Regions from separate parts of the Homo sapiens genome. Here region 1 is linked to region 2. Evidence: fine-mapped expression QTL. Tissue or cell type: whole blood. Region 2 holds a variant in brackets; the other region holds the start of a gene. All regions are shown on one strand. Distances are from middle to middle.

Region 1 (4,240 bases), 41 kb before region 2:
GCTTTGAACTGAGAATGCTTTTTTACAATCTTAAGTGGTTGAGAAAATATCAAAAGTAGAATAATATTTTGTCACATGTAAGTTTACATGAAATTCAAACTTTAGAAGAATTTCCTCTTCACAGACATCACATCTTCAAGAGCAAATGCTTGAGCCCTAACCTGCAAGTTATAGTAGAAAAGTCCAGAAGTCCAGCCTGGTCCTCGCCAAGTTTCCAACTCCTATGCCTAGGGGTATTTTATGCTTACAGGATCTAACTTGGTTACAACGTCTAACTTTTAGCAGAGAGGCAGTGCTGAGTAGAAACTGGACTTGTTAACCATATCAAGTCACTTAAGTTGGCTAGGATCCCCTACTTAGGTAGCGGCCATAAAGCCTAGGGCATCCCTGTGCCCTCAATGGTTCACTTCTGAGTGGTGGGCTTCCTGCTCCTCAATAGAGCAATCGGCAGAAAGGCCCCTAGAAAGCTACATTGTCTTCATCCGCGAAGGATTCCCTGTCTCCTATTCCTCAAAGGAGCACCCGGATTCTACTTTCATTCTTCTTTTGCCATTGCATTTTATAACTTAAAAGAAATAGATGATTGTAACAGAAGAAAGAAAACTTTACATTGTGAGAAAATTTAGACCTAAAGCTTATAGTAATGTGAGGACGAAAGTCTATACTGTTTAAGTAAATAGGTTCTATGAGCAGCATCCAGGCTAACATCACACAGTGGTATTTTGAATTAAATTGTACTTGTGTTTTGTTTCCGTGTTTTGCTGCTGTAAGGAAAGAGGAAAGCATCCCCTTTCTCGGCCCTCCTCCCACGTCCAGGCTAATTTGCAGCATTTCTACATCTCAGAGTCCACCCTTAAGATCCTTGCCACCCATTATTTTGTTTCAGAACGCTTAATCCATCAAGGAAGGTTAAATTGGATTACCCCAGTAGGGAAGGGACGGGGGCTGTAAGCATGAGGGATTATCCCTGTAAAGGGCTCGTGGTGTGTGTGTGTGTGCGTCCTGCTAGTGTTGAATGACGGAGACCTGAGTTTGGATTCTGAATCCAGGTGTATTCGATGCCGCTCCGGCGTAGAACGGGTTAAAGATGCCCCCAGCCAGGTAGAGCCAGACTGGGAGTTGTGCAAGGTCTCAACCCCCTAAAAGCGGCCCCTCAAATTGAAGATGAGTAAATCATAGTTCGTAAATCAGAAAGATTATCCAGTACTACGTTACTCTGTTTATTTCCCTTTCGTCATCCCTGAGTCTTGGGTCAAGTCCATCCCAGCTCTGTCCTCCAGGAATCAAGGGAAATACGCAAACCCGCGGTGGGTTCGCAGCCGCAGGAAGGACAAATCTTGCCCCCGCCGCGGCGGCCGCCCCGCGTTAGCTGCCTAAGAGAATCTCCGTGGCCGGCCAGTACCCGCCTTGGTGAGGATTCTCCCTCCCGCGAGAACTTCTGGAATGCCGCCGGGCCAGATTTTGCAGCTGAGGCCTCCGACGCCACTAATATTGGGCCAAGCAGGGAGTGCTGCTCTTCCTTATAAGGTTTTAGCGAAAGTTAAGTAAGCCAATTAAAGTGCAAAACACACAGTCTGGAACAATACAGCGCTCTATAAATGGTCTCCATTATTATCATTATCCGTTAGTTATAACTGGGGATAAAAAAAAAAAAAAAACGACAAAAACCTGGAGAACCGGAAAGGTCTGCAAAAGGGGCGGAACGCGGGAACTTCGATTTGGGGAAGGGGTGGCGGGGGAGATCCCACACAAGCAGCCAATCCAGCTGTCCCGGGGAGGAAGAGGAGGAGTCAAGGCCCGCCCCTGGTCTCCGCACTGCTCACTCCCGCGCAGTGAGGTTGGCACAGCCACCGCTCTGTGGCTCGCTTGGTTCCCTTAGTCCCGAGCGCTCGCCCACTGCAGATTCCTTTCCCGTGCAGACATGGCCTCTGGCACCACCACCACCGCCGTGAAGGTGAGATGAGCCCTCCCAGCCGCAGCGGTTCGCCCTGCCGGATGCCTTCTCGCCCCCGCGCCGGGGGACCGCGCCTCCGGGGGCCATGCGCCCGGCCCGTGCGTCCCTTGCCGCCGCGGGGAGGGACTGGGGCGCGGCACTCGGGACTCACTTGCCGCGCGAGGAGAGGGTACGCTTGCAAATGATCCCCCTGCCGCACCGCCAACACACACACACACACACACACACACACACACACACACACACACACACACACCACCTTTTGGCTTATCTGCACCCGCACCCTGTAGGGCGTAGGCACCCCTTTAGAGAGAGAGGTCGTGGATGGGAGAGGCTGCACCCATGCCACCACCATTCCTGAGAACCACTCTTCTTCCAAGAAAGACACCCGGCTGGAGTCAGGAGGTGTCCGGGCGCCTGCAGCTTCTGTGACCGTCTCCTGGTGCCTTGCGGGACTCCAGCTTCCGCTCTCTGACTCTGCTTGTTGCCTGCGGCCCACGTGGGAGAACTGCTTACTTGCTCTTTTGTATGCTTCCGGCTTCTTTTTCCTCCAAACGTAGGCCTTCTCCGCGCTGAAGTTTTCCCCAGCAGCGTAATACTGTAAGAATTCTGAGACTTTCTTCGAAAAGGAGTACAGGCGTCCGTTTTTAGGGCTGCACTGTTTGGAGGCCTCTGGCTTGAAACTGCTTTGTTTTGCAGCCTTGCAAGTTAGAGTTCAATTTCCTTGTGCCCTAGGCCCTGAGAGGCCTTGATACAAGGGGTCATTGTGCGGTGGGAAGCTTTGTGCTGAGGAGGGCACGAGTTCTGAGAGTAGCAGCTGGCTTCCCTGGGGTTTTAAACACTTCTCTCCTGGTTAGTATTCCGAGAGAGAATTACAGCACGTAAAGAAAAATTGATGATAAAACTTAAGACCTCTTCTAGGCAGTTTATTACTGGCTAAGAATGCGTTCTTGTTTGATTTTTAGAAATTTTTGGCCTATGGGATAGGAAGGTCTGCGATCTTCTCCAAAGCATCTCGATTCCCTACACTCGACTGCAGTTTTCCCGGGAGAAGGCGAATTTCTGCGGTCAGTGTGTAATCAGCCAGATTAGTTTATTACGCCCTTGCAGGTTTAAATGAGCCACTTAGAATGAGAGGAATGGTGAAGGGTGTTGCATCCAGACTTATATATGAAACTTATTTTGTCATTTTGAAAAGAATCTTGCATCCAGCAAATATTTATAGAAGGCCTCTCCCCTGCCTTCATTGTTTGGCGGAAACAAGGCAGAAATGGTTTTCATGAAACTCGTGTGAAGTATGTGACTTCTCTTAGGTGCTCATCTATAAACTGAGAATTTTACTGCAGAATTTGCTAGGAGGGCTAGAATTATATTGTCTATGTTGCACATGGTAGAAGCTTATTAAGTGGTAGTGCTTATAAGTGGGGGAACTGAGATTAATTTTGAATGATCTTTTCCCCAAAAATTATTAAGTTATTGTGTTAGGTATCATTAGGCCACAACTTTTCACCTTATCCTTGCAGGAATACACTTCAAGCGCCATTAAAAATGGAGAAATGGTGTTTAAAACAGTCTTACTTTAATCTGGTTAGCATTCTCCCTGCCACAGGGTTTCCCTTCAAATTAATGCAGTGCATTTAAGTGCAGAATGGGCAATGGGATTCTCAGAGACCTGATGTAAATATTGAATAGTGTGTATTTTTGGTCTTGGCAAGCTTCTGGATATAAAATTAAGAGGTACATATGGTGCTAGGACTGCCTGCTGATTTCTCTTTTAATTTAGAACAGATGACAGCTTTGCCGTAGAGATTCCATGATGCCAGCACCGTATTCCCCAGACTTCTAAGGCAACATTCTGTATAGAAGATGTGAGGTGCCAGTGTCCAGAGCAAAATAGGTTAATAAAAACCACATCCTATTCCCAAATTATAGAATGATGGGGCTGGAGTGTTCCTTCAAGACCATCCATATAGCCACACAAACCCGTTTTGCGGGTGTAAAGTTGAGGCCCAGAAAGGTCAGCTAAGTATCCAGAATTACACAGCTGGACCTAGATAATGACAGAATTGGGCCTAGAGCCTGGCATTCCACCAACTAGATGTGAGGCATTTCTGAAATCTGAAGTGTGGTCTCTGCCCTGTTTTCTTGTGACCTAATGCACAATTAAAATGAGCACTTGATAGAATGTCCATCTTGAAGAGGGAGGCAGAGGGTATGCAGAAAGCAGGCTGCCTCCAGTGCCCACTGCACACCACCCAGGTATAGGTATAGGAGGCACATGTGTGT
Region 2 (4,240 bases):
AATATCATAAAGAAAAAATAAATCACAGCTTCAGGAAATGAAAGACACACTTAGAGAAATACAAAATGTAGTGGAAAGCTTCAACAATAGGCTAGAACAAGTAGAAGAAAGAACTTCAGAGCTTGAAGACAAGGCTCTTGAATTAACTGAATCAAGACAAAGAAAAAGAATTTTAAAATGAAATTTTAAAAGAAATTTGGGTTTATGTTAAATGGCCAAACCTAAGAATAATTGGTGTTCCTGCAGAAGAAGAGAAATCTGAAAGTTTGGAAAACTTATTTGAGGAAAACTTTGCTGGCCTTGCTACAGATCTAGACATCCAAATACAAGAAGCTCAAAGAACACCTGGGAAATTTATTGCAAAAAGATGATCAGCTAGGCACATATTTATCAGGCTATCTAAAGTCAAGATGAAAGAATCTTAAGAACTGTGAGACAAAAACATCAGATAACCTATAAAGGAAAACCTATCAGATTAATAGCAGACTTCTCAGCAGAAATCTTACAAGCCAGAAGCCAGAAGGGATTGGAGTCCCATTTTTAACCTCTTGAAACAAAATTATTCTCAGCCAAGAATTTTGTATCCAGTAAAACTAAGCTTCATAATTGAAGGAGAGATAGTCTTTTTCAGACAAACAAATGCTGAGAGAATTTGCCACTATTGAGCCAACACTACAAGAAATGCTTAAAGGAGTTCTAAATCTTGAAACAAAACCTCAAAATACACCAAAATAGAACCTCATTAAAGCGTAAATCTCACAAGACCTATAAAACAATAATACAATGGTGAAAGAACAACGTCTTTAGGCAAAAGCTAGCATGATGAATAGAACAGTACCTCACATCCCAATACTGATGTCGAATGTAAATGACCTAAATGCCCCACTTAAGAAAAGATACGCAATGGCAGAATGGATAAAAATCTACCAACTAAGTATCTGCAGTCTTCAGGAGAATCACCTAGCACACATGAACTCACAAAAACTTAAGGTAAAAGGGTGGAAAAAGATATTCCATGCAAATGGAAACCAAAAGCAATTAGGAGGAGCTAGTTTTATATCAGAAAAGAACAGACTTTAAAACAACAACAGTTAAAGCAAAGAGGGACATTATATAATGATAAAAGGAGTAGTCCAACAGGAAAGTATCACATTTCTAAATATATATGCACTTAACACTTGAGCTCCCAAATATATCAAACAATTACTAATAGGCCTAAGAAATGACATAGATGGTAACACAATAATAGTGGGGCACTTAAGTACTCCACTGACGGCACTAGACAGGTCCTCAAGACAGAAAGTCAACAAGGAAACAATGGACTTAAACTATAACCTAGAACAAATGGACTTAACAAATATATATACCCAACAACTGCAGAATATACATTCTTTTCATCAGCACATGGAACATTCTCCAAAATAGAACATATGCCACAAAACAAGTCTCAACAAATTTGAAAATCAAAATTATATCAAGTACTCTCTCAGATCAAAGTGGAATAAAATTGGAAATTAACTCCAAGAAGAATCCTCAAAACTATACAAATACTTGGAAATGAAATAATCTGCTCCTGAATGATCTTTAGGTCAACAGTAAAGTCAAGATGGAAATTAAAATATTCTTTGAGCTGAATGATTATAGTGACACAACTTATCAAAACCTCTGGGATACAGAAAAAGTGGTGCTAATGGGAAAGTTCATAGCATTAAATTCCTACATCAAAAAGTCTGAAGGAGGACAAATCAACAATCTAAGGTCA[C/A]ACTTCAAGGAACTAGAAAAACAAGAACAAAGCAAACCCAAACCTAGCAGAAGAAAAGAAACAGCAGAGATCAGAGCAGAACTAAATGAAATTGAAACAAAAAAATACAAAAGATAAATGAAACAAAAATATTTGAAAATTTAAAATTGATAGACCATTAGTGAAATTAACCAAGAAGAGAAAAGATCCAAATAAGCTCAATGAGAAATGAAACAGGAGATATTACAACCAATACCACAGAATACAAAAGACTATTCAAGGCTACTATGAACACCTTTATGCACACAAACTAGAAAATCTAGAGGAGATGAGTAAATTCTTGGAAATATACCACCCTCCCCAATTAAATCAGGAAGAAATGGAAACCCTAAACAGACCAATAACAAGTAGGAAGATTGAAACAGTAATTTTAAAAAATTGCCAACAAAGAAAACATCCAAGACCAGAGGGATTCACAGCTGAATTCTATCAGACATTCAAAGAACTGGTACCAATCTTACTGAAACTATTCCAAAAGACAGAGAAAGCAGGAATCCTTCCTAATTCATTCTGTGAAGCCAGTATCCCCCTAATTACAAAATCAGAAAAGAACATAATAAAAAAAGACAACTACAGACCAATATCCCTGATGTACGTAGATGCAAAAATCCTCAACAAATTACTAGCTAACCAAATCCAACAGCATATGAAAAAGATAATACACCATGGTCAAGTGGGTTTCATACCAGTGATGAAGGGATGGTTTAACATAGGCAAGTCAATAAATGTGATACATCACATAAACATAATTTAAAACAAAAATCACATGGTCATCTCAATAGATGCAGAAAAAGCATTTGACACAATCCTCCATCTAGTTATAATTAAAACCCTCAGCAAAATTGGCATAGAAGGGACGTACCTCAAGGTAATAAAAGCCATCTATGGGCTGGGCACGGTGGCTCACACCTGTAATCCCAGCACTTTGGGAGGCCAAGGCGGGCGGATCACAAGGTCAGATCGAGACCATCCTGGCTAACACGGTGAAACCCCATCTCTACTAAAAATACAAAAAAATTAGCCGGGCATGGTAGCGGGCGCCTGTAGTCCCAGCTACTCGGGAGGCCGAGGCAGTGAATGGCGTGAACCCGGGAGGTGGAGCTTGCAGTGAGCTGAGATCACGCCACTGCACTCCAGCCTGGGCAACAGAGCGAGACTCCGTCTCAAAAAAAAAAAAAAAGCCATCTATGACAAACCCACAGCCAGTGTTATATTGAACAGGGAAAAGTTGAAAGCATTCCCTCTGAGAACTGAAACAAGACAAGATTCCCACTTTCACCACTTCTGTTCAACATAATACAGGATGTCCTAGCCAGAGCAATCAGACAAGAGAAAGAAATAAAGGGTAAAAAATCAGTAAAGAGGAAGTCAAACTGTTGCTGTTCACCAATGATATGATCGTATACCTAGAAAACCCTAAAGACTCATCCAAAAAGCTCCTAGATAAATGAATTCAGCAAAGTTTCAAGATGCAAAATCAATATACTCAAATCAATAGCACTTTTATAGACCAACAGCAACCAAGCTGAGAATCAAATCAAGAACTCAACCTGCTTTACAACAGTTGCAGGAAAAAAAAAGTAAAATGCCTAACCAAGGACATGAAAGATCTCTACAAGGAGAACTACAGAACACTGCTGAAAGAAATTATAGATAATACAAAAAAATGGAAACATACCATGCTCAGGGATGGGCAGAATTAATATTGTTAAGAATTCTTACAAAAGCAATCTGCCAAAAAGCAATCCACAAATTCAATGCAGTTTCCTTCAGAGTACCACCATCATTCTTCACAGAAATATAAAAGTATCATATTTCTGCCAAAAGCAATCCACAAATTCAATGCAGTTTCCTTCAGAATACCACCATCATTGTTCACAGAAATATAAAAAAAAAAATCCTAAAATTTATGTGAGACCAAAAAAAGAGCCCATATAGCCAAAGCAAGACTAAGCAAAAAGAACAATCTGGAGGTATCACATTACCTGACATCAAACTATACTACAAGGCTATAGTTATCAAAACAGCATGGTACTGGTATAAAAGTAGGCATGCAGACCAGTGGAACAGAATAGAGTATCCAGAAATAAAGCCAAATATTTACAGCCAACTGATCTTTGAAAAAGCAAAACAAAAACATACACTGAGGAAAGGACACCCTATTTAACAAATGTTGCAGGATAATTGGCAAGCCAGATGTAGAAGAATGAAACTGGATCTTCATCTCTCATATAAAAATCAATGCAAGATGCATCAAAGACTTAAATCTAAGACCTGAAACCATAAAAATTCTAGAAAATAACATCGGAAAAACCTATCTAGGCCTTGGCTTAGGCAAAGAGTTCATGATCAACAACCCAAAAGCAAATGCAACAAAAACTAAGACAAATAGATGCAGCTTAATTCATCTAAAATGCTTCAGCACAACAACAAAAAATA

What was found.
Region 1: it holds the start of MTAP, and the variant in region 2 is fine-mapped to the expression of MTAP in whole blood (TOPMed, PIP 0.98).

What each region holds. Positions count from the first base shown.
Region 1 is chr9:21,800,828-21,805,067 of GRCh38, forward strand. It overlaps MTAP (methylthioadenosine phosphorylase), which reads left to right and starts at 1,809. Exons shown (of 8, transcript NM_002451.4): 1 at 1,809-1,954. The coding sequence starts at 1,922. RefSeq lists enhancers at 688-1,318, 1,319-1,947, 2,442-2,651 and a silencer at 1,992-2,151.
Region 2 is chr9:21,842,065-21,846,304 of GRCh38, forward strand. The region is part of intron 5 of MTAP (methylthioadenosine phosphorylase); the gene reads left to right. Among named protein-coding and RNA genes, the nearest start is that of MTAP, 42 kb to the left of the region's middle. The variant C/A (reference allele first, on the strand shown) is at 1,763.